Homo sapiens: one gene and its partners. The protein of the gene in region 1 purifies or fractionates together with the protein of each later gene. This does not show direct contact. Each region holds a gene or a part of one and is shown in the gene's direction. Other genes may lie near its edges.

Evidence for each region.
Region 2: the proteins of PGCKA1 (region 1) and STK25 purify together in Homo sapiens (affinity purification with mass spectrometry; 3 studies listed by BioGRID and IntAct, with this or other methods). This does not show direct contact.
Region 3: the proteins of PGCKA1 (region 1) and NFKB1 purify together in Homo sapiens (tandem affinity purification; one large-scale study listed by IntAct). This does not show direct contact.
Region 4: the proteins of PGCKA1 (region 1) and EEF1A2 purify together in Homo sapiens (affinity purification with mass spectrometry; 3 studies listed by BioGRID and IntAct, with this or other methods). This does not show direct contact.

Annotation. Positions count from the first base shown.
Region 1 is NC_000004.12:37,580,526-37,588,770, forward strand, and holds part of PGCKA1 (PDCD10 and GCKIII kinases-associated protein 1), read left to right. Parts: intron 1-3,707; exon of another isoform or gene 3,708-3,863; intron 3,864-5,778; exon of another isoform or gene 5,779-8,245. UniProt on the Homo sapiens protein: Acts as a tumor suppressor. Acts as a tumor suppressor for colorectal cancer cell proliferation by targeting KEAP1/USP17/ELK1/CDK6 axis.
Region 2 is NC_000002.12:241,501,973-241,510,217, reverse strand, and holds the start of STK25 (serine/threonine-protein kinase 25), read left to right. Parts: upstream 1-1,633; 5' UTR 1,634-1,775; intron 1,776-1,872; exon of another isoform or gene 1,873-2,082; 5' UTR 2,083-2,182; coding exon 2,183-2,212; intron 2,213-8,245. UniProt on the Homo sapiens protein: Oxidant stress-activated serine/threonine kinase that may play a role in the response to environmental stress.
Region 3 is NC_000004.12:102,603,174-102,609,358, forward strand, and holds part of NFKB1 (nuclear factor NF-kappa-B p105 subunit), read left to right. Parts: intron 1-3,322; coding exon 3,323-3,524; intron 3,525-3,976; coding exon 3,977-4,146; intron 4,147-4,475; coding exon 4,476-4,578; intron 4,579-6,185.
Region 4 is NC_000020.11:63,490,240-63,498,484, reverse strand, and holds part of EEF1A2 (elongation factor 1-alpha 2), read left to right. Parts: exon of another isoform or gene 1-203; intron 204-650; 5' UTR 651-721; coding exon 722-865; intron 866-2,449; coding exon 2,450-2,629; intron 2,630-3,383; coding exon 3,384-3,680; intron 3,681-5,197; coding exon 5,198-5,348; intron 5,349-7,749; coding exon 7,750-8,006; intron 8,007-8,245. UniProt on the Homo sapiens protein: Translation elongation factor that catalyzes the GTP-dependent binding of aminoacyl-tRNA (aa-tRNA) to the A-site of ribosomes during the elongation phase of protein synthesis.

The DNA of each region.
Region 1 (8,245 bases):
CATAGAGGTATCACCTTGGTGGTCTTGGATAAGATCTGAAAGAGTTCACTGGATTACCGGGCAGACTCTTGTTCCCCAAACAAAAGTTTCTCTCTCTGTACTGAGCCACCTGAAGCTGGGGATAGGGTGACACAAGCACCCTTGTGGCCATGATCACTAGGACTGTGCTGGGTCAGACCTGAAGCCAACACAGCACTGGATCTTACCCAGGGCCCTCTGTAACCACTAGCTAGCTAGCTCCAATGTTTGCTCAAGGCCCTAAGGCTCTACAATCAACAGGTGCAAAGCCAGCCAGGCTTGTGTCCTTCCCTTCAGGGTGACAAGATACCCCAGGCCCTAAGTGGGAGCTAGGGACTGAAGTCAAAATCCTTAGAGATCTACCTGGTGCTCTATTCTACTGGGGCTGAGCTGTCACTCAAACCATAAGACAAGGCCATTTCCATTCTTCCCTCCCCTTTTCCCAGGCAAAGGATCCTCTTCCTATCACCATTACTACCACAGGCCCACAGAGAGTATTGCCAGGCTACTGCCGATGTTCACTTAAGGCCCAAGGGCTCCTCAGACAGTTTATAGTAAGTTCTGCCAGGCCTAGGACACATCCTTCAGGGCAGTGGACTTGCCTGTGGTCAAGTGCAAATCCAGAAATGCCATCCAAGAGCCAAGGCCTTGAATTAGGGACTCCAAGAGCTCGCTTGGTGCTCTACCCCACTGTGGCTGAGCTGGTACCTAAAGTGCAAGACAAAGTCCACTTTACTTTTCCCTCTGCTTTTCTCAAGTAGAAGTAGTCTCTCCCCATAGCCACCACAGCTAGGAATGTGCTGGGTCTCACCTGAAACCAGCACATCTCAGAGTCTCACCCAAGGCCCATAGCGTACTACCTGGGTATTCCTGCTGGTTATTCAGGGCCCAAGGGCTCTCCACTCAGCAGGTGATGGGTCTTGCCAGGACTTGGTCCTTCCTTTCAAGGAAGTGCAGTCCCTTCTGGCCCAGGGTGTGTCTATAAATGTCATCTAGGAGCTGGGGCCTGGAATGGGGGCCTCATGACTCTGCCTGGTGCCCTATGCTAATGTGGCTGAGCTGGTATCCTATGGTGTAAGACAAAGTCCTCTTTACTCTTCCCTGTCTTTTCCTCAAGCACAAGGAAGGGGTCACTTTCATTGCTGTGAGCTGTGCTGCCTGGGTTTTGGGACACGTGACACAGGTTCTCCCTTAGCCACTCTGGTGTCTCAGTAGATCAGGTGCCCCCCCAGGTCCACTGGCTCTGGCCCCAGCACAGTACTGATATCTTGCCTAGGAACCACAGTTCTTGTGGCCTAGGCTACCCTTCAAGTGTATTAGGATTGCAGAGCACTTTAGTCCATGGTGGTGCGGCTTGCCAAAACTCAAGTTCCAACAACTGGAATATATAATTTCCCTCTGGCTAGATCTGGTCCAAATGCTCCCTCTGTGTGTGGGTAGGCTGGGGGGTCGTGGCTTAGCTGATTTCAGCCTGGTTTTGCTTTCTGCTCTGATAGGGCAGCACTGAGTTCAAACGCAAAGTCCCCAAATCACTGTACTCTCCCTCCCCCAAACACACAGATGCTCTCTCCACGACATGCAGCCACTGCCAAGGAATGGGCAGCGGCAGTTCAAGATTGTCTTTCCTACTACCCTCTTTAGTGCCTCTTTCAGCAATATGAAGTTAAAACCAGGTACACTGATTGTGTACCTGATTTTTGGTTCTTATAAAGGTGCTTGTTGGTGTAGATGATAGTTGTTAAATTTGGTGTTCCTGTGGGGCAATGAAGTGAACATCAGTGGAGGCTTCTATCTGGCCATCTTGTTCTGCCCTTCCCCAAGAGCATTCTCTTATATAACCCCAGTACAATGTTCAAAAGCAGGTAATTCACATCAATTTAATACGATTACCTAATCTACAGACCTTATTCAGATTTTACCAATTATGTCAATAACGACCTTTTAGCAAGAAGGACATGCAGTGCATCGGCTGTCATGTCTCTTAAATCTCCTTGAATTTGGAAGCATTCTTCTGTCTTTCTTTGCTTTTTCATAACATTACATTATTTTAAGAGTACAGGCCAGTTGCTTTGCAGACTATCCCTCGTTGTTTCAACTCAGAGTATGCTCTTTTGTCAGGAAATCACAGAAGTGAGGCTAAGTTCTCAGTGCATCCTATCAGGAGCCACATGCCATTGATTAGTCTCATTATGGCACTATTACCTTTGATTACTTGGTTAAGGCGCTGTATGCCGGGTTTCTCCAACGTAAGGATAATATTTTGTCCTTAATCATATGGGGGGGAGCTACTTTAAGACTAAATATCCTGTCCTCCTCAAAATTTCACCCACTAGTCCTACCATCCATTGATACTTCTTACTGACATCAATTATTATTATGATGGCTATCAAATGGTTTTTCTATTATTATGATGGCTATCAAATGATTTTTCTAGTTCCAGTATTTCTCGTATGTTTGTTAGCTGGTTTCCTACTTGTAAGGTAGAGTGTTCCCTTTCCCTTTATGTATCTTAGTGTGGACTCATAAGTCCTTGTTTTATTCAATTGGCTACAAATGCTGTAGATTAGTAATTATTTTAATATTCCAGTTGTTCCACATTTGGCCAGTAAAACTTCTACAAGTGGATTCCTGTGTCCTTTTAAAATGTCCCTGTCATTCTTCAAAGCTATCACTATTTAAAGGCAGCTTCCAGATGGGTTGAGTCTTTTCCTATATGCCCTTGACTTCCTAATGAATACTCAGTTAATTTCTCTGCCTGGCTGGAGAACTCCTGGGCTTCCCTGGACTTCGCCCTTCCCCTACCTCCATTGCTACCCTCCCAGCAAGGAGGCTTCACCAATGACTGACATGGCATTAGCATGGCCTTCTTTTTTTATTGTTTGTTTGTTTTTGTTTTTGTTTTTTTTTTTTTGAGACGGAATCTCGCTCTGTCGCCCAGGCTGGAGTGCAGTGGTGCGATCTCGGCTCACTGCAAGCTCCGCCTCCCAGGTTCACGCCATTCTCCTGCCTCAGCCTCCCGAGTAGCTGGGACTACAGGCGCCCACCACCACGCCCAGCTAATTTTTTTTTATTTTTAGTGGAGACGGGGTTTCACCGTATTAGCCAGGATGGTCTCGATCTCCTGACCTCGTGATAGCCTGGCCTTGTTTAAACACAAAACAGAGTCAGCCCCCAACACAGGGCTGCAGAAGCAGGCGGCAGCAGCATTGGGTGGACACAGCCATCCTAATGGTGTTTGTTTTTCCCCTGTGTAAACTAAGAAGTGGTTGTGAAGGATTTTCCCTTTGTTGCCTGTTGCTTTTTTATGCTCCAAAGAGGAAGCAAATTTTGATTTTGCTCAGTAATAAAGGGTACCCAACAACTGAATTCTTACCTTTAAGCTAGCTGTTGCCAAAAGGGAGGCAAGGAAGACAGCTGATAGACTGCTCATTTTGAACCCAATCTTACGTCAAAAGAGCATATTTTTTTCATTGCTGTGTGTCACATGCTAGACCCGGAGCATTTCCTTGTTGCCCCTGGGCTTAGGAGAAGTCCTTGCTAAATGCAAGATGTAGAAGTGGGAGTGACATATGAAAAAAGAAATGAATTAAATTTGATATGACACATCATATAAGGAAGAATAATTGTAGACACAGGCATGCAGGGGTTGGGTGTGAGTACATTAGTCCCCACCCTTTTCGTCAGCAGTCACACAACCTTGGACATTAGAGCCTGTCCGTCTGATCTAGAGAAGGAATGTTGCTGGGGAAGGAAAACTCAGGGCGAGGTGAGAGAGGACAGAACCTCTAACCAGGAAGAGGCTGTCCCCGCCAAGCTCCGGAGAGGCGCGGAAGCATGACCCTCAGGTATGGGACCAGGTCTATAGGAAACCCATGTGGTGTGCCCTAATGGGAGGCAAGCCGGGGAGGACCCAAACTGGAAACCTGATTCTGAAAGAGGAAAACCACCACAACATCCTTTGTAATTGTGCAGCTTGGAAGAACAGTATAGATCCTGTGGTTTTCCTGGGGAAGGAGGGGAGCCTAAAAGCCGCAAATGATGTATATTTCCTTCAGAAGCAGGGAAGGGGCAGTTTTCGAGTACGGCTGTTAAATCTCAGCACTCACTTCATTCGGTGCAGGCTGCTCCTGTGGTCTTGGCTATAGCAGCAGAAGGCGGGGATGGAGGGTGCCCCAGGGTCAATCTTGGTCAGCCTCCGAGGAGCTGGGAGTGCAAGGTGTCACTCTGGATGTGCCTGCCTGCTTTTCCTCGCCTTCTTGCCCTCCTTCGCCTTTCCTCCCTCTTTTCTTTCCTCCTTTCTTTCGCCTTCCCCTGTACACCTCTTGAATTCACCATCATAAAGTTGACCTGAGATGTTTCAATGAGTAATGTTTTATGATTGCTTCAGTTACATTATTACAATCCAGTCTGCCTTCCTTGTTTCTCAAACAGTTCTAAGCTCTTTTCTCCTTTTCTTTGACTTGTTTTTTTTTTTTTTTTTACTACCTATCCTCCTGACTAGTTGTTGTTGTTTGTTGGTTGGTTTGCTTTTAAAGAGTCCAGGATAAACAAAGTATTGCAGGCATGAAAAGGGTCAGGATTTCAGAGCGAATTGTGGAGGGGGAGGGTCAGGAGGGGAGGGGAGAGGAGGGGAGAGGAGAGGGGAGGGTGGAGGAGAGGTATTGAGGGAGGGGAGGGGAGAGGAGAGGTATTGAGGGAGGGGAGGGGAGAGGAGAGGTATTGAGGGAGGGGAGGGGAGAGGAGAGGTGTTGAGGGAGAGGAGGGGAGATCAGAGGTGTTGAGGGAGAGGAGGGGAGAGGAGAGGTGTTGAGGGAGGGGAGGGGAGAGGAGAGGTGTTGAGGGAGGGGAGGGGAGAGGAGAGGTGTTGAGGGAGGGGAGGGTAGAGGAGAGGTATTGAGGGAGGGGAGGGGAGAGGAGAGGTGTTGAGGGAGGGGAGGGTAGAGGAGAGGTATTGAGGGAGGGGAGGGGAGAGGAGAAATGTTGAGGGAGGGGAGGGGAGAGGAGAGGTGTTGAGGAAGGAGAGGGGAGAGGAGAGGTGTTGAGGGAGGGGAGGGGAGAGGAGAGGTGTTGAGGAAGGAGAGGGGTGAGGAGAGGTGTTGAGGGAGGGGAGGAGGTGCACGTGCTTCTTCTCGCCTGTCCTATTTATCCAGCTCATCTATGAATTATCAGCAGAAAAGGAAAGTAAAGGAGGAGTAGAGGCTGGGAATAAAATCCTGGGCTTTAGAAATGGGGTAGTTTAAGAGTATTCTGAAAGGTACAATGTTACACATGTGTACACAGTTCCATAGCAAAAGCGATTTTTCTGTCTACGGGACTGTTGTTGTACTTGGGGTTTTCTATCTTTCAATTGGTGTCACAGTTGATAGAAATATACCATGTAGCCCTTATTCCAGAAACAAGTCCTACTTGACATTGTTAATACTCTTGTTTGTATGCATAGGTTCTGGCAACTAGATTATATCTTTCTTGGATACTAGACCTCCATCTTTTTCTTTTTGGGGGGTGTGTTTTAATATGCTGTATCCAAATGGGGTGGTTAAGACACCCCTGGTCTATGTTTATTATGAATGTTTGCTCATATGACCCCCAGCAACACTATATAGTAGGAATATTATTATCCCCATCTACAGGCCAAGTGACTGAGGCCCAAAGTCCCACAGTAGCAGGGTTTTCTGTCTCCTGAGCCCACCCTCATAACACCTGGGCGACACGGCTGGCACAAACTGGAAATGTCTTGATTGGTTGCAGACACACAACAGGTTCACTGATAGTGCTCTCGTTTTTAATCCATAGCCATTAAATCATTCATTCATTCCACATTTATTGACTGCCTGCTCTGTACCAGGTGCTGTCCTAAGTGCTGAGAATTAGACTTGAAGAAGGGTGGAGCACGGTAAGGAAAGAGGGTGGCAAGAGATGCACGGCTGGTCCGAGGGACTCTTCTACATTCCATGAGTCCTCCCAGGAAGAGTTGGAAGGACAAGGGGTTTGGTCCTCAAGCATGAAGTGATTTGGGGATGTTACTAGTTTTCTGTGCTGCTGCAGCAAATTACTACGAACTTAGAGGTTTAAAAAAATGGAAGCAGCCGGGCATGGTGGCTCACGCCTGTAATCCCAGCACTTTCAGAGGCCAAGGTGGATGGATCACCTGAGGTCAGGAGTTCAAGACCAGCCTGGCCAGCATGGTGAAACCTCATCTCTACTAAAAATATAAAAGTTAGCTGGGCGTGTTGGCAGGCACCTGTAATCCCAGCTACTGGGGAGGCTGAGGCAGGAGAATCACTTGAACCAGGGAGGCAGAGGTTGCAGCGAGCCGAGATTGTGCCATTGCACTCCAGCCTGGGCAACAGAGTGAGGCTCTGTCTCAAAAAAACAAACAAAACAAAACAAAACAATGGAAGTTTATTCTCTCCCAGTTCTAGAGACCAGAAGTCTGAAATTGGTATCAGTGGGCTTGATCCAGGGGTGGGTATCAGGGATCAAGGTGTCACCGGGGCCACACTCTTTCCAGAGGCTCCAGGGGTGAATCTGTTCCTTCCCTCTTCCAGCTTGGGGGGCTGCCAGTACTCTTGGTTTGTGACCTCCTTGCTCCAATCTCTGCCTTTTTGGTCACATTGCCTCTTCCTCTTCTGTCTATAATCAAATGTCCCTCCACCTCCTTCTCATAAGCATTTATTTAATTGTATTTAGAGTCCACCCAGATAAACTAGGCAAATTGTACCATCTGAAAATCCTACACTTAATCACATCTGCAAATACCTTTAATTTGGGGGCTGGGGTGGCATATAAGGTATTATTTATAGGTTCCAGGGATTAGGATGTGGATATCTTTGGGGGCCATTTTTCAGCCTACCATAGGGAGTTATTTGTGGATTTTATTTTTTTAATGTAAATCTAGTCCCTTTTAACTAAGCAACCAATCTGTACTTCTTAAAAAGCACCAGTCATATTCACTGTGGACAAAAGCTTATGAAGCAGCATCCCTGGAAATTCACCTATGATTGAAAGAAGGAAGGAGGGACAACATGGGAGACAGAGACACAGCCAGCAATGAATGATGTCTCTTTCTGGTGCATGTGCTTCATGGAGACAGGGAGACTGGGGATGCAGATTCTGTTTTGGCTTGTCTTTTTAAAGGCTGTAGGCCCGTCACAGTGGCTCATGCCTGTAATCCCAGACCTTTGAGAGGCCAAGGCAGGCAGATCACTTGAGGTCAGGAGTTTGAGACCAGCATGGCCAACGTGGCAAAACCCTGTCTCTACTAAAAATACAAAGATTAGCCAGGCATGGTGGCACCCGCCTGTAAACCCAGCTACTTGGGAGGCTGAGGCAGGAGAATCGCTTGAACCTGGGAGGCAGAGGTTGCAGTGAGCCGAGATTGCGCCACTGCACTCCAGCCTGGGCGACAGAGTGAGACTGTGTCTCAAAAAAAAATAATAAATAAAAATAAAGGCTGTAGATATTAGAAATGAATAATATCTAAGAGATGCTTCCATACTCATTTTTAGGATGTTCTGAGGAAGGAAGAGGCCAACATGGTCAGTTTTATATGAAGAGAAGATTTTGTTCCAAAGGAAATGATGGGGAAAAGCCCAGCTTGGGGAGGGGTCAGGGAACAGTGGGCAAGTGGGAAATGAGTCCACCTTCTGCCAGGAAGCCCAAGGGGGCATGTCTTTGAGCTGCAAAAGAACAGGTCCACAAATCATAGCTGAGATTGGCCCAGCGGTAGGAAAAGCAACACAGAATCAATTTAGTGTGGTTGAAGCTTGTGCGATGACTCGGGCTATCACGCTCCTCAGGGCCTGAATCATGGGACACAATGGATCCGCCAGCTTATTCCGGCATCCTTTAACTCTTGAGGAGCAAATGCCCTGGCAAGGAATCCGTCAGAATCTCCTTCCCCTCCTGCTGCTGCGTGCAGTGGGCCGTGCCCTGGTGAGGTTCCTGTGTCCTCTGTAGAAGGTAACAGATTAGAAAAGCAGAAGTCCCTTCTCTGTCTAGCATCCTTCCACCTTCTTCTCCTCATCTGCAAAATGGGGATGAAACACATAACCCCAGGGTTGGGAGAAAGGTCTGACACAGAGGCAAGTGTCAGTGAACGTTTGAGAACTCTGAAGCGGTGATGGAAATGGGGTATTCCTGGTAACCAGCACCCTCTCTGACCCACGTGGTAGTTATCCTTTTGCCAAAATGTGTGACTCTCTTAATACATTTTGAGTCTCTAGGG
Region 2 (8,245 bases), on another chromosome or scaffold:
GGAGTACTGTGGCATGATCTTGACTCACAGCAACCTCCAACTCCCAGGTTCAAGCGATTCTCCTGACTCAGCCTCCCTAGTAGCTGGGACTACAGGCACGCACTACCATGCCTGGCTAATTTTTGTATTTTTAGTAGAGATGAAGTTTCACCATGTTGGCTAGGCTGGCCCCGAACTCCCAACCTCAAGTGATCTGCCTGCCTCAGCCTCCCAAAGTGCTGGGATTACAGGTGTGAGCCACTGCTCCCAGCCTCTTCTAGGCACTTCGGAAAAGTGCAGCGATTACTGACCACACGAAGGCCAGAGATGCAGCAGGCATCTATTTACATGCATTAAATACATATATTATCTTCATGCATTTACACATTCATTCAACAAACATTACTGAGCGCCTGCCGTGGGCTGGCATGGTCCTGGGCACAGCTCCGCTTGCAGGAAGCCCACTTTCTCCTGGGGAGTCAAAGCACAAACAAAGCCAAGTCAGTACGTAAAGAAGCAGGGGTGATGAGAGATGCGGACCCAGGAGGGGTTCAAGGGGCTGTCCTGGACGCATGACAGGGAAGCATAGCTTCTTAAAGGACTCGGCAGTGCACCATGAGAAGACACGCACCAGGGAGCAGAGAGAAACGCCAGAACCCTCTCGAAGAAGGAGGGATGTGAGGAGGTCAGGATAGTCACCTGTGCTGAGCCATCATGGAGAGTGAGGGCCTGTAAGGGTGGACACAGTATGCAGGAGGGACAAATCTTCCTCACCGGACAGGTGGGGATCCCTGCGGTGCACTAGGGGAATGCACACAGGGGGCACTATGACCTGGCGGCCCACGGGGCACGGGGACGCACCAGGTAGCCTTGGGATCTGCAAGTCCCTCCCGGACCCTGGGGAGTGCCATGACGGCTTCCAGCAGCAGTCACTGTCCTGGGCGCGTCCCGCGCTCTAGCCCAGGTGGGTCCCACAACGGTGTGACCAAGGACGTCCTATGACCACCCCTTGACAGGTAAGGAAACTGAGGCAGGAGAGGCGAAGCAACTCGCCCAAGGAATGGGCTGTGCCGGTAGCTTCTCCAAGGCCTGGTGCGCCCTGGCCTGTGCGCGTGATCCCGGGCGGGGTCTCAGTACGAACAGGGGCTTCGCGATGTGGCCAGCGCGGGCTTATCTCCGTGCCGTGACGACAAGGCTAGAAGCCTGGGCGGCCGCGGTGGATCCTCGTGGCGAGGCGGGGAGGGCGCCGGGCCTCACTGGCCCGCTCGAACCAGGGCTGCGCAGGGCAGAGCCCAAGGGAGAGGGCCGCGCGGCCGCCGTAACGTCGGAGACGACGCCTGGCAGGCGCCAGCAAACGCAGAAGACCCGCGAGGGCGAGGCAGGGAGGGCGCGACGCGACAACGACCACGTGCCCCGCCCGCCCAGGCGCGCGGCCTGCCGGGAGACGCAGTCCAAACCTTTCGGGAGCAGGACTAGGGGTCCCAGAGAGCCTCGCGGCGCGCATGCGAGCCCCGGCCCCCTCTCGCGCAGCCTGCCGGGACTTGTAGTCCAACGCCAGCAGGCTTCCGGGCCCGGAGTGGGCGGTGGGACTCGGGGTCCCAGAGAGCCGTGCGCGGGCCGCGACGCCGAGCACCGCCCTCGCCGTCGCCTCCGGGCTTTCTCCGGTCGCTGCCGCCACCACCGTTGCTTCGCGGGCTGGGAGGCCCGGGGTCCCCGGGCGAACAGAGGCTGCGGGTGGGAGCCTTCGCGGGCGCTGCAGAGCGGGCCGGGGGAGGCCGGGATGGAGCCCCGCGGAGGTGGGCGCGCTGCCGGGCGGGGCGCTTGCGGCGATTGGGGAGGGGGCAGAGGGAGGGGCCCGGGGCGGGGCTCGGTGGCGGGGACACCGGGGCGGGGGCACCGGGAGGAAGCTGCCTTGGAAGAGGTGGGGGCGGCGACGGGAGGGGCGGCGAGCCCCCGGGAGCCTGGGCGTTAGGCCCGGGCGTGGCGGGGCCCCGGCGGCCTGGGGGGTCTCCTGGGCCCCCCCCCACCCATGGAGCCCGCCGCCCCGGAGGTCGGTCTCAGATGACTGAACTGGGCACCGAGCGCCCCTGGTGTCCCTCGCAGTGGACTGACGCCGCAGGGGCGAGCTAGCCGGCTCCGCGCCTCTCCGCGGGATCCAGACGCCTCCTGGGGCTGCTGGCGGAGGGTCTGAGGCGGCGCGGCCATGGCTCACCTCCGGGGATTTGCCAACCAGGTGAGAAGGGTGCAGGTCAGGAAGACTAGCGGCCTCTCACCGAGGGGCTCCAGAGTCTCCTGGGGGTTCAGAGGGGAGCGCCACGCCGGAGCGGGCAGTGGGGTGAGGGAAGGAGCGCGCGTCGTGCGACCAGCGGAGCCGTCCTGAGGTGGGCGCAGGGCGGCCCCGGGGCTCTGCCGTGTGCCTGTGGCGTTTTGCGTGGCAGAAGCTCGCAGGCCTCTAGAAACCGAGCCCCTGGTGGCTCCGCCTGTGCGAGGGCGGTGGAGGTGCGTGAAGAGACACCGGCGCAGGGACGGGGCGCTGCCCCCAGCGCGGGGCGGGAACCTCATGTCAGCATCCGAAGGCAGTGGAAGGTCGGGGGCCACCCTGCGGCCTCGGCCTGGGCCGCGGGTCATTCTGGCCGTGTTGGGCTGGGCAGGGGCTGTAGGGGAGACCCTGGCGGGCGCTGAGGGGCTGAGATTGTGGAGAAGCAGATCTGAGTGGCCGGTGTGCAGGGAAAGCAGAGAACACGTGTGTGCTTTGGCCCAGGGGAGGGTGAAAAGGCTGCTCTGTCAGGACCGTTTAACCCCTGCGACGGGCGGTTGCCCGAACATGAGACTCATCTTTCTTCTTTAAAGAAGTCGTTTCCACTATGGAGCCACCTTTAAGCGTCTGGTGGGACAGCCTCGGAGGGAGCCACTACGGCGAGCCCTTAGCCTGGAATGAGGACCAGCTGCTGGTGCCAAAGGGCTTGCCGGGGAAGGAGGGTGGGGTCAGCCAACCTGGGGCCTGGGGACTTGCATTCTCTACCCCTCCCCACTTTTTTGACTCTGGCCGCTGGGTTTTCTTACATCTTAGCTGTTCGGTTTTATTCTCCTTGATGCCTTGGCTCTACCTAAGGCGTTGGAATCGCCGCTAAAATGTGTGGCCCTCCTTGTTCACTCCTATGTGCTGAATGGAGAGTTGGGCCTGCAGTGGAACAGGAAGGGCGTCTGTTCGCGTAGGGGCAGGAACTGGAGTCAGGGCTGCTTTGGAGGAAACCGGACCAGCCTAGAGACCCGGAACACCATGTGCAGCTGTTGGGCCAGGCAACCTGGACCTGCGTGGTCACAGATGAGACTGGGGCTTGCTGACTGTTGCTGAATTAAGCTAACAGATTTTTGGTTTGCTTTTGGCATTCTGTATCTGGTAACTTACATGACTAAGGTGCTGGGAGAAAAATCTGCCACCAGTTTATTTTACTTTATTTTTATTTTTTTGAGACGGAGTTTCGCTTTTGTTGCCCAGGTTGGAGTGCAATGGTGCAATCTCAGCTCACTGCACCCTCTGCCTCCCAAGTACAAGCGATTCTCCTGTCTTGGCCTCCCAAGTAGCTTGGATTACAGGCATGCGCCACCATGCCCAGCTAATTTTGTATTTTTAGTAGAGACGGAGTTTCACCATGTTGGTCAGGCTGGTCTCAAACTCCTGACCTCAGGTGATCTGCTTGCCCTGGCCTCCCAACGTGCTGGGATTACAGGCATGAGCCACCGCGCTCGGCCACCAGTTTATTTTTAAGAACTGCAGAAATAACTCCTTTGGGTCACAGGATGAGAAATTGGAGCTCCGAGGTGCCCTGTAACTGTGTGCTATTGGTTCTTGGTGCGATCGCACACAGGGAAGGGAGTGCGGGCACATTGGAGAAGGGATTCCAAAGGTAGGAAGCTCCTTTTGTCCTTTTAGGGATCCCTTTGTCCCAGCCTGGATGATGAGAGACTTGACTTCATATAGTGGCAGAAAACCTGAGGGGCTGTGGTTTTCTCCTGAGATGGTTGCCATGGTGTCCTGTGGACCTGTGGGGCAGCCCCTTTGTGGGAGAGTGGGGCGCGTTCCCCCCATAGCCTGTGCTCCTGCCTTAGACTTCTCCCCTCTACCTGGCCAGTTCCTGCCTGGCCCTGGAGGGCCCGAATGGCTGTGGGGTGCCAGAGCACTGTATCACCACTCAGCTATGTGTGCTGGGTCATTCCCCTTGTTTTGTGGGGCAACACTGACAGCAGACACATTGGCAAGTGGAGGCCCCAGACCTGGCAGCCCCAGGGCTAATGTGGAGAACAGGTGTCCACCGCTCGAGTCAGCTGAGTGGCCCGAGTGATCATCCAGGCCACAGCTGCTGCTACATCCAAAAGAGGATTCGCAGCCTCCAGGCCAGGGGCCCACTTACCCTTTCTTCTCCAGGTGGGGGTGGGGATGGCTTGCCTTGGCTTGGCCTGCGATGTCATTGTAGGGCCAGGATCACAGCCAAGAGGGTTCCTGTCACACAGTTTCTGCTTGGGCTGATGAGCCCTGGCTCTGGCTTAGGGGTCCGCTGTGCTCCCCTGCTGTGAAGCAGTAGAGGTCTGAGTGCCCACCCAGGGGTTTCCCTACCGGGGCTGCTGTGATGGAGCAGATTCAGCTCCAGGCCCTGTGTGGAGAGCAGCATGGCCTCAGCAGGGAGCAGGGAGTAGAGCAGGGCGGGAGGACGCGTCATCCAGAGAGGCCTGAAGAGTCGGAGGGGTGGTGGTGCTGGGTAATGCTGCCAGGTCATGGCCCTGCTTTCTCCAGGCCCTCTCTCAGGCCACCTTAGACAGGAGTAGATGGGAGGACACAAGCTCAGGGCACCAACAGACCTCTGGAATCCCCAGGAGGACTCCCTTGGGGTCTTTCCGGGTGCTTGGGCAGGGTTGGGTTGAGGCTGAGGCCAGGCCTACAGGCTAACGGCTCGGTGGAGCAGCGTCCCAGGGCCCCGAGTAAGCGTTGATGGGCTGAGCAAACAGGGAGGATTTGACAAGGTGGCGTTGGGCCTGCTGGAGGAGGAGCAGGCAGAAGAGGGGCTGCTTCTGCAGATCACCTGAGGTCAGGAGTTCGAGACTAGCCTGGCCAACATGGTGAAACCCTGTCTCTACAAAAATTCAAAAAAAAAAAAAATTAACGGGGCATGATGGCGGGTGCCTGTAAGTCCGGCTACTCGGGAGGCTGAGGTGGAAGAATCGCTTGAACCTGGGAGGCGGAGGTTGCAGTGAGCCGAGATCACGCCACTGCACTCCAGCCTGGGCAACAGAGTGAGACTCTATCTCAAAAAAAAAAAGAAAAAGAAGAGGGGCTGCTTCTTAACCTTGTCCTGCACCTGGCATCCAGGACTGGGCTAGGAACGGGTGGTCCTCCACCAGAAATGGAGCAAACAGGGAGGAGGAAACGGAGATGATGCTCTCTATGGCAGGAGGGTGATATTTTAACACTGACTGCTTACCTATGACAGCCAGTGGGCTGATGAGCTTATGCTTTGACATGCACTTGTGGGCCCAGCTACTCAGGAGGCTGAGGAGACCAGCCTGGGCACACAGCGAGACCCCCCATCTCAAAAAAAGATTGCATGTTCTGGGTTGACTTTCCTTTCAGATAGGGGCTGGTTCTCACCTCATCTGTGCCACCCACCCTCAACCCGGAGACAGCTGAGCACCTGTGACTTGTCAGCTTTGAATTTTTCCTGGCTTCTCTTTAGAACACATGGTCAGCAGCAGTGATGGGGCTGGGGGCAGACACAGCTCACCTTGACCGGAATGACCCCAGGCAGTACTCAGCTCTCTCTATCCTGCCGAGTTTCTTGACCTTGGCTTTGGGGACTCCTGGTAGCAGGTGGGCTCAAGGCACCCCCTGCTGTTTCCTCCATGGGTACTGGCTTTAGGACTGGGCTGCTGTACTGATGAGAGAATGAGAAAGGTCACTTTTGACTCGACCAGCTGTCTCAACTGGCCAGACCTTTGGGCTAAGCAAGGGTCTGTGTGTACACTGCAGCTGGCCTGCTCTAGCTGCTGCATGGAGGCCACCTGCACACCCCCGGGCCTTGACAAGCCAGCCTTGCAGGGAAAGGTTAGGTGGCCTCTGGCCCTCCCCTAACTGCCTTTCCTTCCCCAGAGTTCCAGTCACCTCGAGGTCTGGCACTCAAAAAGGGATGTGCAGCGGCATGTTTCAAGGTGGGGGCCTGTGTGCCGCCCCTTCCACCCTCCTGGTTAGGAACCCTGGGAGGTCAGCTAATTGGCAGTTTCACACGGAAGTGTCGCCTCAGGCTGGTGCGATGTCCAGTTGGCTTCAGCCAGCTCCTCCGCTGGGCTTAGGCCTGGGGTGGACCCAGCACACAGGTGTCCAGGGGGTGAGTGTGAGGGCTGTGTGTGGTGTACCCCATCCTTCTTGGTGGGCACGGTCTCCGCAGGCCCAGGAACGTGCAGGGCACCCCCACCCAAGGACCTGTCCTGTCTTCAGTGTTTTTTTTTGTGGCATAATTAGTCGTTTTGCCTTTTTTTTTTTTTTTTTTTTTGAGACGGAGTCTTGCTCTGTCGCCCAGGCTGGAGTGCAGTGGCACGATCTCCGCCTCCTGGGTTCATGATATTATCCTGCCTCAGCCTCCCGAGTAGCTGGGACTGCAGGCGCCCACCACCACACCCGGCTAATTTTTTGTATTTTTTAGTAGAGACGGGGTTTCACCATGTTAGCCAGGGTGGTCTTGATCTCCTGACCTCGTGATCTGCCCGCCTCGGCCTCCCAAAGTGTTGGGATTACAGGCGTGAACCACCGCGCCCAGGCTGTTTTGCCTTTTTATGCTCTGCCACACTAAATTGGCATCAAGACCCTTGATGTTGTTAGGGGAGGGGCCGTGCGTGGTGGCTCACGCCTGTAATCCCAGCACTTTGGGAGGCTGAGATGGGCAGATCACCTGAAGTCAGGAGTTCGAGACCAGCCTGGCCAACATGGTGAAACCTTATCTCTACTAAAAATACAAAAAATTAACTGGGAGTGGTGGTGCATGCCTGTAATTCCAGCTACTTGGGAGGCTGAGGCAGAAGAATCGCTTGAACCCAGGAGGCAGAGGTTGCAGTGAGCCAAGATTGCACCACTACACTCCAGCCTGGGTGACAGAGTGAGAAGCCATCTCAAAAACATTTAAAAAAGGGTCGAGGCTTGAGGACACACCTCTGCTGGCTTCCCCTGGACTCTGGGCCTGGGCCACAGACCCCAGGCACCTTCCACACCACTGGCTCAGAAACTTTTAGGCATTGCTTCTTTAAATCTGAGGACTGTGTGAGGCAGCTTTCTGCATCAAGAAAGCATCAAGTTTCTAACTCCGCGCTGGTGTAGCTGTCAGGAGGACTTATGGAGGGGTGAGGGAAGCCCTTTCTAAATACGTGACTTTCAGGAGTGGAGGAGAACTTGGTTAACACATACTGAGGTTTTTTGTTTTTGATGAGGTTTTTTTTTTTAAATTTTTTATTTTTTTGAGACCTAGTTTCGCTCTTGTTGCCCAGGCTGGAGTGCGATGGTGCGATCTCGGCTCACCGCAACCTCCGCTTCCCTGATTCAAGTGATTCTTCTGTCTTGGACTCTCAAGTAGCTCGGATCACAGGCATACGCAACCTCGCCCGGCTAATTTTTTTTGTATTCAGTAGAGATGGGGTTTTACCATGTTAGTCAGGCTGGTTGCGAACTCCTGACTTCAGGTGATCAACCCGCCTTGGCCTCCCAGAGTGCTGGGATTTCAGGTGTGCACCACCAAGCCTGGCCTGATGAGTTTATTTTTTAGTAATTTCAGATTTATAACAAATTAAGTAAGAGCTCCCAAATCCCCCCTCACCCCCAGGGGCCATTCACCTATTAACATCTGTCACGGGGCTGGCATGTTGTTCGGGTTAGATGAGGCAACCTTCATGCCGTGTCATCACCTAAAGCTCCTGTTTCCAGCAGGGTTCATCGAGTTGGCCTGGCCTCTTTATACTTTCTGGGGACTTTTTCCCTTGCATGGAAAGTTCAGTTTAGGTTTTTTTGTTGTTGTTATTTGTTTGTTTGTTTGTTTTTTTAATGGAGTTTGATTCTTGTTGCCCAGGTTGGAGTGCAATGGTGCGGTCTTGGCTCACTGCAACCTCCGCCTCCCGGGTTCAAGCAATTCTCCTGCCTCAGCCTCCTGAGTAGCTGGGATTACAGGCATGAGCCGCCACGCCCAGATAATTTTTTTGTATTAGAGATGGGGTTTCACCATGCTGGCCAGGC
Region 3 (6,185 bases), about 65 Mb from region 1:
GCGATTCTTCTGCCTCAGCCTCCTGAGTAGCTGGGATTACAGGCGTGCACCACCACACCCAGCTAATTTTTGTATTTTTAGTAGAGATGGGGTTTCACCATGTTGGTCTGGCTGGTCTTGAACTCCTGATCTCGTAATCTGCCAGCCTCGGCCTCCCAAAGTGCTGGGATTACAGGCATGAGCCACTGCGTCTGGCCAGTAGCTATGATTTTTTTTTTATATCCTAAACTCTTTACTGTATCATTTGGTTACATATGTTGAGACTCTCCAGTGTGTTAGAGACAAAAACCCTGAAACCGCCACCATTGATACTTCTATCCCTTCTGATTTGGGGACTCTCAGAAGACTATACGTCCATTTTTCCCCTACCTTACCACCAGTCTGATTAATGGGCAGTGATTCTGGCTTCCCTAGTATGCCTTCTAGGTGTCAAACACACACCCAATGGCAACTTTGATTTGAGAATTAGAAACTGCTAAGATTTGAACTCTTGATTATCTGTTGTAAAGGTTCTCTAGTAACTATTCTTAATGGAAAATGATACAGTTCTCTAAATAATTTGGATTATTTGACAGTTAAGCATTCTTCCCAAATACCTTTCACTAATCTAAGTACATTTCTGTGACCATCTGTCATGATCAAATTCCTCTCCCCACCCACCCTCTAGAAACACACTCAAAATAGTCCAAGTGCACCGAGTTAGGATTTTTTATGAAAATATTCTCTTTAAGCCTTTTTCTCCTTTCATTCTCCTTCCCCCAACATAGACAACCACTCTATCGTGTTTGGTATGGATTGTTTTATTTGTGTATGTTCCCATAAAACATTATTGGAGGGTTTTATGTATTTTTATGTTTTTAATTATTATACATATCATGTATATTCATAGTTTTAAAAATGGTACAGAAGAATCTACATTGGAAAGTCAAAGTTGCCCACCCTGACAATGCCCAGGTCTGCTAGCACAAATGTCACTATTGTGTTTATAGGTAGTTTTTCAAGTACTGGATACAAATGTACGTATACTTGAAATACATAGATATTTTCATATACTCTCACATACAATCCACATTATATTAAATGTACTTCTCTTGCCTTGCATTAACCTTTAAAATTTTTTTAATTTAATTTAATTATAGATTCAAAGGAGGTTACAAAAACGTACTAGGAAGTCCTAGTATTTACTGCAAGGAAACCAGAGGTCTCTTCACCCAGTTTCCCCCAATGGTAACATCCTGCATAACCTCAGAACAGTGTCAAAACCTGGAAATAGACGTTGATACAATCCACAGATCTTAATCAGATTTCACCAGTTTTACACACACTTGTGTGTATCTGTATAGTTCTTTGTGCATATATTTTTTAAATGCCTAAGTGGCATTGTGCTACATGTTACTGTATTTCTGCCTTCACTGCTTATCCACACAGTTCTACATATAGCTAGTTTGTTGTTTCAGCTCCTGAAGAGAATCTAGTATGGGTCTTTCACCTATAACATCCTTGTTTCCTAGTAGTAGACATTTAACCAACTTCTAACTTCCTACCTCAGTAGATAATACTGCAGTGACTGTCCTCACTTATGTCCTCTTGTGGATTTGTGTCAGAATTTCACCCAGATACATCTGCAAGAGTTGGGTTGCTGGGACATTTGTATATTTGGCTTTCCAGAATGTCTGTGTAAGTCCCCATGCCCACAGCCATAGCATGAAGGTATAATTGTTTAAGATATAATCCTTGGATTTAAGAACTAGAAGGTTTATATCATGGAAAACCATTGATTGGACTGTGGAAGAAAATATTAAAAAAAAAAAACCTCTCCGACTCATAAGATATTTTTTAATTAAATTCAAGCTACAGATAATTTATAATTCCTGAATGGTATACTATCTTATAATTTCAGATCCTTTTTTCACAATCTCATTCTCTTTCCTTTTCCCATCTCCCCAAGTAGCATTTCAGAAAACACAGATTAGTAAACACAGTTTCCATTGACTTATTTTTGAGAAGAAGGCTCTTGGCAACAATATCTAAAGTTTTGAGGACATCACTTCATTTCAGGCCAGGTTGATAGTCCTAGAAAATGAAAGAAATAAGGGCAAGTAATAATTTGGCAAAAAAAAAGGGTCTTGTATAGTAAATAATCACTGTAGTTGAGATTTAGACTACCCTCCCATCATTCATCCTGCCAGTTATCATGTGCTGTGGTCACCTACACAGCTAGGAGGTTGGTGGCTCACCTGCTGCTGTAGCCAGTAACTGCTCAATGAAAAGGGAATTTTAGGCAAATTGTCACAAGACTGGCTGGATGTCATAGTTAGGCTCCTGTGAAATAAACTGATTTGTATAAAGATACATTGCTGTTCTCTGTCAGTGAACTCAGTTATTTGAAAGATACGTTTGTGATTGTATTTGTCTTACTCATTTTTGAAAACACACAGTTTGCAAAACATCTTATTTGCATTCACCGAAGTAATACCTTGTGGGCAGGATAGTCAAATGGACTATTTAAGTACCTATTAGGTATCAGCAGCTCACCTTTTTTATTCAGCTGAGCCCCCTTGGTGAGATACTTGTATTATCCTGGTTATGTTATTTAGAATCTTATAATACCTTTTATGAAATGGGTGTAGGAAAGCTATATTGACTGGTCTCAGGAGCCAGTCCATGGGACAGTATTTTTTAATTTAGTAAATTTAGTTTCCATGTCAGCATAGAATCATGGCACTTTTGTTAATTGGTTTCTATTGAGTACTTTATTTAAATTTCTTCAGTGAAAACATAGCCTTAATTTGATTTGTTAATATAAAATTATCAGCTGGAGGTAACTCCTACCAGATATTTAAGAAAACTAAATTTACTACTAGGTGTGCTCAAAATCAACAATCAGTGGGTTGTAGTGAGAAACAAGAAGCTATTAAGACTTGTAAATATGAAAATAACCCACCACAGAAAAAATTGTAAGTATATGAAGTGATGGATTTGTAACTTAGCCTGATTTAATCATTTTATGTTGTAAACTTAGATTAAAACATCACATTGTACCTCATAAATATATACAATTACTATTTGTCAATTAAATTTAAGATAAATAAGAATTTTAAAACATGAATTATTGAATGGCTAAGTGTTAGTACAGTATATGTACTTCATTAGCATATAGTATGGAACAGGATAACTTGGGTGCCAAGGTCAGAAGTTAATCTGGGAATGAGAAATATTCCTGCAGTATGGCCCCACCTATTGCAGTAACAGCTACCAAGCTGTGAGTTGTAAGTAAGTATTCACTGCTGACCAGTGAATCTCCTGCCCTTTCACTTTCCAGACGCCCTTGCACTTGGCAGTGATCACTAAGCAGGAAGATGTGGTGGAGGATTTGCTGAGGGCTGGGGCCGACCTGAGCCTTCTGGACCGCTTGGGTAACTCTGTTTTGCACCTAGCTGCCAAAGAAGGACATGATAAAGTTCTCAGTATCTTACTCAAGCACAAAAAGGCAGCACTACTTCTTGACCACCCCAACGGGGACGGTAAGAGACAATCACACATCATTGGTGTAACTTTCTCCACCTTCTAAATATCTACTAGGTATTTGATAAACGTGTGTTATTTGATTTGCACCCAAAAGTGCTTTCCTTAGTCACCTGGAGTTCATCATCTCTTTTGGGCATTTCTGTTGCTCACCAAAGCTAATTTTTTTAAAGATGATTTGGAATAGTTAGTAGGAGGAGAAAGCAGAGGCCTGAGTAAAGATTCATCTTGAAGTACACAAAGCGTCGTTTATTCAGAGAATGTTTATTTATGTTCATGTCTCCTGAGAACATAATAGGAGACTGTGGGTCTTCAAAGCAGAACAATAGACTTATAGTATCTTTACTGTCCCTCCCCATGATTCAGTTTTTGCCATTTCCTTCAGCTTCACAAGGGCCATCTTGTGAGTTAGCCATCCCATCCTGTGACTGTCCCTTTGCTTGGACTCTAGGTCTGAATGCCATTCATCTAGCCATGATGAGCAATAGCCTGCCATGTTTGCTGCTGCTGGTGGCCGCTGGGGCTGACGTCAATGCTCAGGAGCAGAAGTCCGGGCGCACAGCACTGCACCTGGCTGTGGAGCACGACAACATCTCATTGGCAGGCTGCCTGCTCCTGGAGGTGAAGGGCACACTTATTTGCTTTTGCATTAAATTTCTGAGGGAGATTTAAGGAAATCTTTTCAAAGAAGGAAGTCAGTAGCTGCTGTTCTCCCTTACAATCAGCTCTATTTGTTTAACATTTATGGAGGGCTTCAGAGTACCACCTTTAGACATTCCCCCAACCCCCTTGCTTGGCATCTCTAACTGGGGATTTCTTCAATGACAGAGCCAGCCCAAAGTAGCAATTGGGCTAGTAATAGGACCCAAGGAGCCATGCACACTGGGAGGTGGGGACAAAAGGGCAAAAGAACCTTCCACTAACGCTTTCTTGTGTGGGCTGGATTGTAGGGTGATGCCCATGTGGACAGTACTACCTACGATGGAACCACACCCCTGCATATAGCAGCTGGGAGAGGGTCCACCAGGCTGGCAGCTCTTCTCAAAGCAGCAGGTAAGATGGTGATCTGGCGGTCATTAATGAAAAATGTTACCAGGAATGCAAACCCAACTTCAATAGAGCAGTCATGTTGCCTTCTTTAAGCCACAGACCTACTGCTGAAAAACAAGGGTAAATAAAAATTATATGGCAAATCACATTTTATCTGCCATAAGGCACTGTTTGGACTAGTAATCTTGGGCTTTACCCTGATAGTCATTTTAGTTTTTACTTTCTGATTCATCTGTTTGTTTGGGGTTTGATTGTTTAGATTGACTCCCATGACAAAGGGTCTTTTCAAAGTAGAGTTTGATTCCTTATAGAATTCTGAGTGGTATTAGTCTCAGATCATATCAGAAGGCCCCAGAAGAAAAAGATTATTGGTATAAGAAATCATTTAAAGACTTCATTTTGAAAGAAATATCTCTTAGAAATTGAAGTGTAGGAAAAAGAAAATGGGCCATGTATTAAGACCCATTATGTGGAAGGCACTAAAAATGGCTAGCACTTATTGACCTTTCTGTGTACCAGGCACTGTGATATGCACTTTATGTGCACAGTCTCATTTAATGCCCAATCACCCCTTGTGACAAATACCATTATTCCCCATCTTAGAGTCAAGGAAACAGACTAGAGAGACTACCAGATCCCACTTCAGGGTTCCAGTAAGTGACAGAGCTATGAATCACACTTCGGCAGTGTGAACTTCAAGACTTTATTCTCTGTACTATGTTTCTCTCTCCTATTTTGCTCATAGGTTTGCAGATGTTATTCCATTTAATTCTCTAGTCCTGTGAAGTATAGAAAATTATCCATGCTGATCTTTGAATCTCCAGTGCCTTGCATATTTAGAACCTCAAAATATGTGTAATGAAATTGGCATCTGAAGCCTGCCCTGACATATCTGATATACTTTAGAGGCTTTTTTTTTTTTTAACTTAAAAGGTAAATGCTTCATAAATTCAAGAAAACAAAGCAAAAGACATAGGAACTTTTTCTTTGGGACACCATATTTTTCTTTTCTCTTTTGTTAAATAGAACTTTTTCTTGAACAAGAAACTCTGATTGCAGTGGGTATTAATAGTTTTAGAAGACACTGATTAATTAAATGCCTTCCAACAAGAAGCTATAACCAGCCAGACGTGATGGCTCACACCTGTAAACTCAGCACTTTGAGAGGCTGAGGTGGGAGGGTCACTTGCACTAGGAGTGTGAGACCAACCAGGTTAACATTGTAAGACCTCATCTCCATTAAAAAATTTAAAAAGTAGCCAGGCATGGTGGCATGCGCCTATAGTCGCAGCTAGTTTGGAGGCCGAGGTAGAAGTATCACTTGAGCCTGTGAGTTCAAGGGTGCAGTGAGCTACAGTTTCACCACTGCACTCCAGCCTGAGCTATAGAATAAGAATAAGACCCTGTCTCAAAAAAAAAAAAGAAAAAGAAAGAAACTATAACCCTTTTAAAAATGCTTTATATTGAATTCTCAGAATCCCATGAAAGGAAAAGCAAGTAACAGTTTCTCTGATATATAAATGAAGAAACTCAGATGAAAAACCAAGTCCTAATCTTAATGTCGTGGAAAAGGTCAGTTAAGTCCGAGTGTGGTGGCTCACACCTGTAAT
Region 4 (8,245 bases), on another chromosome or scaffold:
CTCAGGCTGGAACAGGGACCCCCACCTCCCGGCCGCTGTCTGTCCCTGTGAGAGTCCGGGAGGGGGGTGCCTAGAGCTATTCTGGGTTCCTAATCTGGGCAGCGCATCTCCGTCGGGGCTCTGGCCCAGCCTGCCGGGCAGGGATGAGGGGAAGATGGCGCCGTCCCTGCCTGAGGAGGGGAGTGGGGAGCAGTGGCCATCTCTCCCCGGTGGCAGCGGGTGGGGGTGGGGCGCCGTGTCCCTGGCCCTGCCGCCGGGGAGGGGAGTGCGCGTGCAGGACAGGGCCCTGGAGCGCTGGGCAGGTGACTCATCACCCGGCTCTGCTGGTCACGGACGTACCCAGCCTGGCGCTGCGTGGTCTCTCCAAATGGTGGCTAACCCCTTCCCAAGGAGCAGCCCGCGGGCTCCAACGCCCAGTTATTTACAGCAGATGGGGCTGTTTGGGCTCAAGTGTGGGGTGGGGGCAGTGCACAGCCTCTGCTTGCCCTGGCCAGGCCCAGCTGTGGGTGGGGGCCCTTCCCTCCCCACCAAACATGGGGGCTTGGTTTGTGGGCAGGGATGCCTGTCCAGCCTGTGCCAGGACAGTCTCTGCTGGTGTCTCCCCCTGGGGCTCCCCATCACCGGTCTCCCCACCACCACTGGCCCCACAGAATCACTGCAGCCCCCCTCGCCCTGAGCCAGAGCACCCCGGGTCCCGCCAGCCCCTCACACTCCCAGCAAAATGGGCAAGGAGAAGACCCACATCAACATCGTGGTCATCGGCCACGTGGACTCCGGAAAGTCCACCACCACGGGCCACCTCATCTACAAATGCGGAGGTATTGACAAAAGGACCATTGAGAAGTTCGAGAAGGAGGCGGCTGAGGTGAGCTCCCCAGGCTATGGTCTTGGCCCCCTGAGAAGGAACCCCCAACTCCCGTGGTGGCCAGGCTTGGCATCTCCCAGCCCCAGGGCATGGGGCTCAGGTGACCTCCTCCAGGGCAGGAGGGACCCCCGCTGTGGGGCACTCAGGCCTCAGAGGGTCTGGTGGGGCAGCCTCTCTCTTAGGGGGAGCTTGGTGGGGGAGGGGTGGCCATCGAGCTGCCGGACTTGCCCTGTGGTGAGGGAGGTGACCTGGGAGGGTCTGCAGAAGGCTCTGGAACTCTGCCATGTTGAGCTGGGGCTGGAGGGCGCTGGAGCCTTACCCCCTTCCCCCCAGGGCCAAGGCTGGGGCTGGAGATGGTACTGCCCTCACTTGTCCTAGGGCCCTGCCAGGGCACACGCTACTATTAATAGCTGATTGATGGGCAGCCGGCCCGTCTGCTCCATTTTCTTGTGCTGGGCTGTGGAGGGCTGCTGTCCAGGGCAGCCCTGGGGTGGGGGTCCTGGATGAGGTGACCTCCTAGCTGACCTTTTGAAGCGATTTCTCTTTGGTGGCTGAGACGGTGGTGGGGAGCGGTCATGAGACGGGGTCTGCTCTCTGATCCCCATCCCCCACCCAGGACTCTGGGGAGAAGCCCACTCCTGGGAGGGCCTGTGGGAGCTCTCACCTGGATGATGAGGGCGGAGGCCAGGGCCCAAGGTGGGGGCACTCGCTGTCCTGGGCTGAGCCTCTGCCCTGGCGGGGTTGGGGGTGCTCTGAGCTGCACCCCTGAGTTTGGGCTGCATCACCCTTTACCTGGCCTTGTCAGGAGGAGGCGGGGGTTTCAGAGGGCCGCTGTTTCAGGCCCCAGCTGGGTCCCATCTGGGTCTGCTCCAGACTGGGCAGCCTCCTGGAGGGCAGAGTCCTGTCTGTGCGAGGCCCTGGCGAGGAGTTCTGCCCAGCTGGGTAGTGACCGCCGCTGCTGCCCTGACTGAAGCCCGTCCCCTTCTGTGGGGGTCTCACTGGCCGAGGCCCCCCAGCTTCCCGTGTCCGGCAGAGCGAGGAAGGGGAGGAGAAGCCTCAGAGGGATGGGGAGGCTGGAGCAGCGGGAAGGAGCTGCGTGGCCAGGCCCTCCTCCTGACCTCATTCAGTTTTCCTTTCTCCTTACCTTAAAAAAACACACACACACAGAGGGTTATTTATCTGACAGCCCCAAACACGGTGGTATTATTGGCCTCTGGTTGAGGAAGGGATCTGGGGGCGTCCGCAGCTTCAGATAAAGGGGAGCCCTCGCCCGGGAGGGGTTTATCCCATCTGGCGGCTTCGCTCGTAGAGCGAGCGACTCCCAGGCCCTTGCGCCACCTGCTGGTGGACCTGCGTAGCCGCGCCCATTTCGGAGCAGGTGCGGAGGCCGGCCCTGGGGGGCAGGGTCTGGGTGTGGGGTCCCGACGGAGGGGGCCGGCGTCCCAGGACCCCGACGGAGAGCAAGGGGGTGCTGGAGCCCATCTCCCGCCTCTCGCGGCCACTCTGCTGTAACAAGCAGCTCGCACCACCAGGGACTCCTGGGTCCCGGGTCCCGCCCTCAGCCGTGACCCTCACCCGCTCCAGATGGGGAAGGGATCCTTCAAGTATGCCTGGGTGCTGGACAAGCTGAAGGCGGAGCGTGAGCGCGGCATCACCATCGACATCTCCCTCTGGAAGTTCGAGACCACCAAGTACTACATCACCATCATCGATGCCCCCGGCCACCGCGACTTCATCAAGAACATGATCACGGGTACATCCCAGGTGAGCAGGGCACAGCAGGCGGGGCTGGGGGAGAGGCCGCTGCACCCTTCAAGGGACACTGGGGGCCCCTGGGGTCACTGGGATGGTAGGGTCTCCTGTGCTTCCTGTGAGGGCAGGGGACCCCTCACCTGGGCCACCCTCACCCAGTCTGGCTCAGAGCCCCCCTAAGGATGAATCCAGTGCTCTGGCATCTGAACCAGTGCCTGTGAAGGCATCCAGCCAGTGTCAGAGTCCCCAGATAGATGGGGGCAGATGGGGACGTGGACACACCTTCATACATGGAGGGGTTGGAGGCCAGGATGGGGAGAGTGAGCAGTGGGCAGAGGTGCCACCCGCCAGGTGTAGACTGTATGACATTTCAGGGCACTCACAGAGACGCACGGACACCCCAGACACAGCACCCTGCAGACAGCAGGACACATGCCACCACCTCCAAACTGCTTTGATAACTGTGACTTCTATCCGTCCTCAAGTGAGGAACAGGAGCAGATAGGCTGAGTGACTTGTCCAGGGACACACAGCCCACTGGTGGTGGAGCCAGGGCTGAACCTCGGTCCCCTGACCCAGGGCCTGGCGATGAGCCCCCATGCTGCCCTTGAAGTGGGGACCCCCATGCCTCCCTCCCCAAGGCCCCAGTGGGCTGCTCAGGCCCCAGCCCGCTGCCTGGAGAGGCCTGGAAGTGAGGTGGGGCCAGGCTCGCTCTGTCCCCTGCCAGGCAGGCGGGGCAGGGCTCACTGTGTCCCCTGCCGGGCAGGCGGACTGCGCAGTGCTGATCGTGGCGGCGGGCGTGGGCGAGTTCGAGGCGGGCATCTCCAAGAATGGGCAGACGCGGGAGCATGCCCTGCTGGCCTACACGCTGGGTGTGAAGCAGCTCATCGTGGGCGTGAACAAAATGGACTCCACAGAGCCGGCCTACAGCGAGAAGCGCTACGACGAGATCGTCAAGGAAGTCAGCGCCTACATCAAGAAGATCGGCTACAACCCGGCCACCGTGCCCTTTGTGCCCATCTCCGGCTGGCACGGTGACAACATGCTGGAGCCCTCCCCCAACGTGAGTGGCGGCTAGGGCGGGGCGGGCCACGGGAGCTGGCTGGACCCCCTGGCCCAGAGCGAGGCACCGGCAGGTGGCACGGGGAGGTCGAGGGCCTGTCCCCGGGAAATGCAGGTTCCCCTCGAAACCTGCTGGGTTTCCCTAACTGGCTCAGGGCCCGGCGGGGAGCCCCATGCCCCTCAGCACCGGGCTTTGCTCCTACACTCAGCCTCCCACGCGGCTGGCCGGGGCCAGGGCCCATCTACGATGTCAACACAGCAGGGGCAGCGGCCTCCAGCACCAGGCCCATGTGCTTGGTCTCCAGAGCCCTGCCATGGGGGCGGTCGGTTTCATCTCTGCCAGGCCATTGTCCTGGTCCTGGACACCGTGCAGGGGCTTTGGGCTGGGCCGTGGGGGCCTCCTTGGCTGCCTCCCCTGGGATCTTGGAGCAGGGTTGGGCTTTGGGAAGTGTGCATGCTTCTGGGCTTGCTGGGATGGCCAAGGGTTGGCTCTTGGCCGGTCACCTGGGAGCTCAACGTGCGAACAGTCTGTAGCCCAGGGACTCTGCCTTGGCTGGAGGTGACGCGTGGAGACACTTGCAGAACCTGAGACTGTTCCCAGGGTTCTCCAAGCCAGAGGAGACCCCAGAATGGCCACCACTAGGCTCTGCCAGCACTGTCGCTGCCCACAGTGAGGGTGCAGGTGTGGAGTCTAGAGACAGCAGGGAGACAGACCAGCAGCACTGAGCCTGGAGCTGAGGTCTGGGGACAGAACTGGGAGGGACTCCCCCAGCTCCGCCTCCATCTCACGAGGCTCGGTGTTGTTTACCTGTGATGGCGTTTTCCTCATGGGGTATCATGTGGCGAACGCCACTCTCCCCTCCCCAGGGAGGCCTCCAGCCATCAGGGACCCTGCACTCCCCTCTGGCCTGAGCTGCTAGGTGGCTCGTGCTTACACAGGCCCTGGGGGGCTGGGGCACTGTGCTGCCGGCCCCCTCCCCTGCTCCCTGTTTGTGGCAGGTGGCCCAGAGGGAGGCTTCATGGGATGGGAGTGGGGGCCACACTAGGAGAAGCTCCGGACAAGGCTGGGCCAAGCTCGGAGGCAGCACGGTGTCCAGAAGCTAGGGTGGGGCGAGGCTCCTCCAGCTCTGTCCCTGGCCTGGCCCTTGGCCAGACTCAGCATCCTCCTAGTCAAGTCATCTGCCCTGCCTGGAGCTGATGGTCAGGGGCCCGGGGTTTCGGGGACTTGGGGCTGGACTGGGGATTTGTTCACAGTGTCAGCAACTCCTGAGCAGCCTGGGCTGGGAAGGGTGCTTTCCCTCTTTGTCCTCCTCCTTTTAAGAGGGATCTCCTTCCCAGAGTCCCTGTGATGCTGGGGCTATGGGCTGGGGAGGAGCAGGGTGGGGAAATTCCTCATCTCAAAGGGCACGAGGCAAGTTTAGCCTGAACAGCAGTACTCCTGGAAGCACCCTGGGGAGGCCTGAGGGTGGGGAGGCCACCAATGTCTCTTAACGGATTGATTTTCTCCCTTTGGTCCAGATGCCGTGGTTCAAGGGCTGGAAGGTGGAGCGTAAGGAGGGCAACGCAAGCGGCGTGTCCCTGCTGGAGGCCCTGGACACCATCCTGCCCCCCACGCGCCCCACGGACAAGCCCCTGCGCCTGCCGCTGCAGGACGTGTACAAGATTGGCGGTGAGCAAGGGCGCTGTGCTGGAGCTCCTGCCTGGCCAGCTCTGCCTGCCCTAGACCAGGGGCCCCTACAAGGCATCTCAAGACTGGGCTGTCTCCAATCTCTCCCCTTACCACACACTTTCTGTGGGACAGTCCATCCCACATCCATCCATCCATCCACCCACCTCCCCACCCATCCATCCTCTGTCCATCCATCCACCCATCCATCTATCCACCTCTCCATCCATCTATCTATCCATCCATCCATCCATCGATCCATCCATCTCCCCACCCATCCATCCTTCACTCCATCCATCCATCCATCCATTGTCCCATCCATCCTTCTCTCTATCGAACCATCCCTCCATCTCTCCATCTATCCACCTCCCCACCCATCCATCCTTCTGTCCATCAATCCATCCATCCATCCATCCATCCACCTCTCCATCCATCCATCCATCTCCCCACCCATCCATCCTTCTCTCTATCCATCCATCCATCCATCCATCCATTGATTGTCCCACCCATCCATCCTTCTCTCTATCCCTCCATCCATCCATCCATGCATCCATCCATCCATTGTCCCACCCATCCATCCTTCTCTCTATCCATCCATCCATCCTTCCATCCATCCATCCACCTCCCCACCCATCCATCCTTCTGTCCATCCATCCATCCATCCATCTCTCCATCCATCCATCCATCCATCCATTGTCTCAACCATCCATCCTTCTCTCTATCCATCCATCCATCCATCCATCCATCTACCCACCCATCCATCCTTCTCTCTATCCATCCATCTATTGACCCACCCATCCATCCTTCTATCTATCCATCCATCCATTCATCCACTCACCCACCTACCCACCCATCCATCCTTCTGTACATCCATCCATCCATCCATCCACCCACCTACCTATCCATCCATCCTTCCATCCATCCATTTATCCATCCATCCATCCATCCATCTATCCACCCACCTACCCACCCATACATCCATCCATCCACCTCCCCATCCATCCACTTCCCCATCCATCCATCCATCCATCCATCTCCCCATCCACCCATCCACCTCTCTATCCATCCATCTCCCCACCCAGCCATCCTTCCCTCCATCATCCATCCATCCATCTCATCCATCCGTTCATCTCCTCATCCATCCATCCATCCATCCATCCATCCATCCATCCATCCATCCACCTCCCCATCCGTCCGTCCATCCATCCATCCATCCATCTATCCCCCCATCCATCCATCCATCCATCCATCCATCCATCCATCTATCCATCCACCTCCCCATCCATCCATTCATCCACCCACCTTCCTACCCATCCATCCTTCTGTCCATCCACTCATCTACCTCCTCATCCATCCATCCATCCATCCATCCACCAATCCATCCATCCATCTCCCTACTCATCCATCTCCCCACCCATCCTTCTGTCCATCCACCTCCCCATCCATCTACCACCCCATTCATACATCCATCCATCCATCCACCCACCTCCCCATCCATCCGTCCATCCATCCATCCATCCCACCAAGAAGAGAAACCATAAACAAATCTGAGACCCTAGAGAAGGGCACTGATAGGAGACCCCCAGCCAGTGGGCTGCAGCCAAAGATGTTGCAGGCATCTCTGTGTGCACTGTGGGGGCATCATGCTCACCCCAGCACAGAGCACAGCCACTGGCCTCAGTGAAGTTGGCTGGAGGCTACAACAGGCCTCCCTCACAGCCCTGGGAGGTGAGGGTGGAGACCCAGTAGCCTGGGGGGGGACAAGACCCCCATGTGGCAGCTGCACAATTGGTTTAAGTAGATCCATGAGAAATGCCAGGGACGCTCATGTGCCGCTGTGCCTGTGCTGCATCTGGCTGAGAGGCCCCTTTAGTGATAGAGACCTGCAGCATCCAAGTGGGGCCCAGAGAGCCTGCAGGGAGCAGGGAGCAGGGCCTGCAGGGAGCAGGGAGCAGGGCCACCAGGCCCCAGGCAGAAGCAGTCAGTCGCCCCGCCCACACTCACAGGGAGGAGTCCTCAGACAAAGGAGGGGTCCCATAGTGCCTCCTTTGAGGGAAAGTGCTCTCCGGGGGCAAGGATGGGACCCCAGGTTCAGACAGCCCCTCTCTGCCCATCCTCCCGCTTCTCTGTCCCTGTGGCTTTTCCGTGGGTTCCTGGGAGCTCTGCTGCTCAGCCTCTTATTTCCCCAGCTGGGTGGGAGAGCCCCCACTTCCCTTGGAATCTCTGTGTCTGCCCTTGTCCCTGGCCTCCCTTCCCCTGCACTCCGCCCATGTGGCCCCAACCCCCAGGCCTGTCGGGGGGATCCAGTCCCAGGCTTTGTTGGTTTCCAGGCTCTGTCCCCGAATATCCTGCCCCAGCATCCCCTCGGGCCCCACCTTCCCCTCACACCCCCTCCCCTCTGCAGGCATTGGCACGGTGCCCGTGGGCCGGGTGGAGACCGGCATCCTGCGGCCGGGCATGGTGGTGACCTTTGCGCCAGTGAACATCACCACTGAGGTGAAGTCAGTGGAGATGCACCACGAGGCTCTGAGCGAAGCTCTGCCCGGCGACAACGTCGGCTTCAATGTGAAGAACGTGTCGGTGAAGGACATCCGGCGGGGCAACGTGTGTGGGGACAGCAAGTCTGACCCGCCGCAGGAGGCTGCTCAGTTCACCTCCCAGGTGGGGGGCTGCGCTGGGTCCAGGGGGCTGGCGCCTGCTGGACAGCAGCAGGACTGTCCTGGGTGAGGCTGCTGTCGGCAGGTGGCCTGGCGTGGGGAGAAAACCAGACCCTCAGGCTGGGCGCAGTGGTTCACGCCTGTAATCCCAGCACTTTGAGAGGCCGAGGCGGGCAGATCACGAGGTCAAGAGATCAAGTCCATCCTGGTCAACATGGTGAAACCCCGTCTCTACTAAAAATA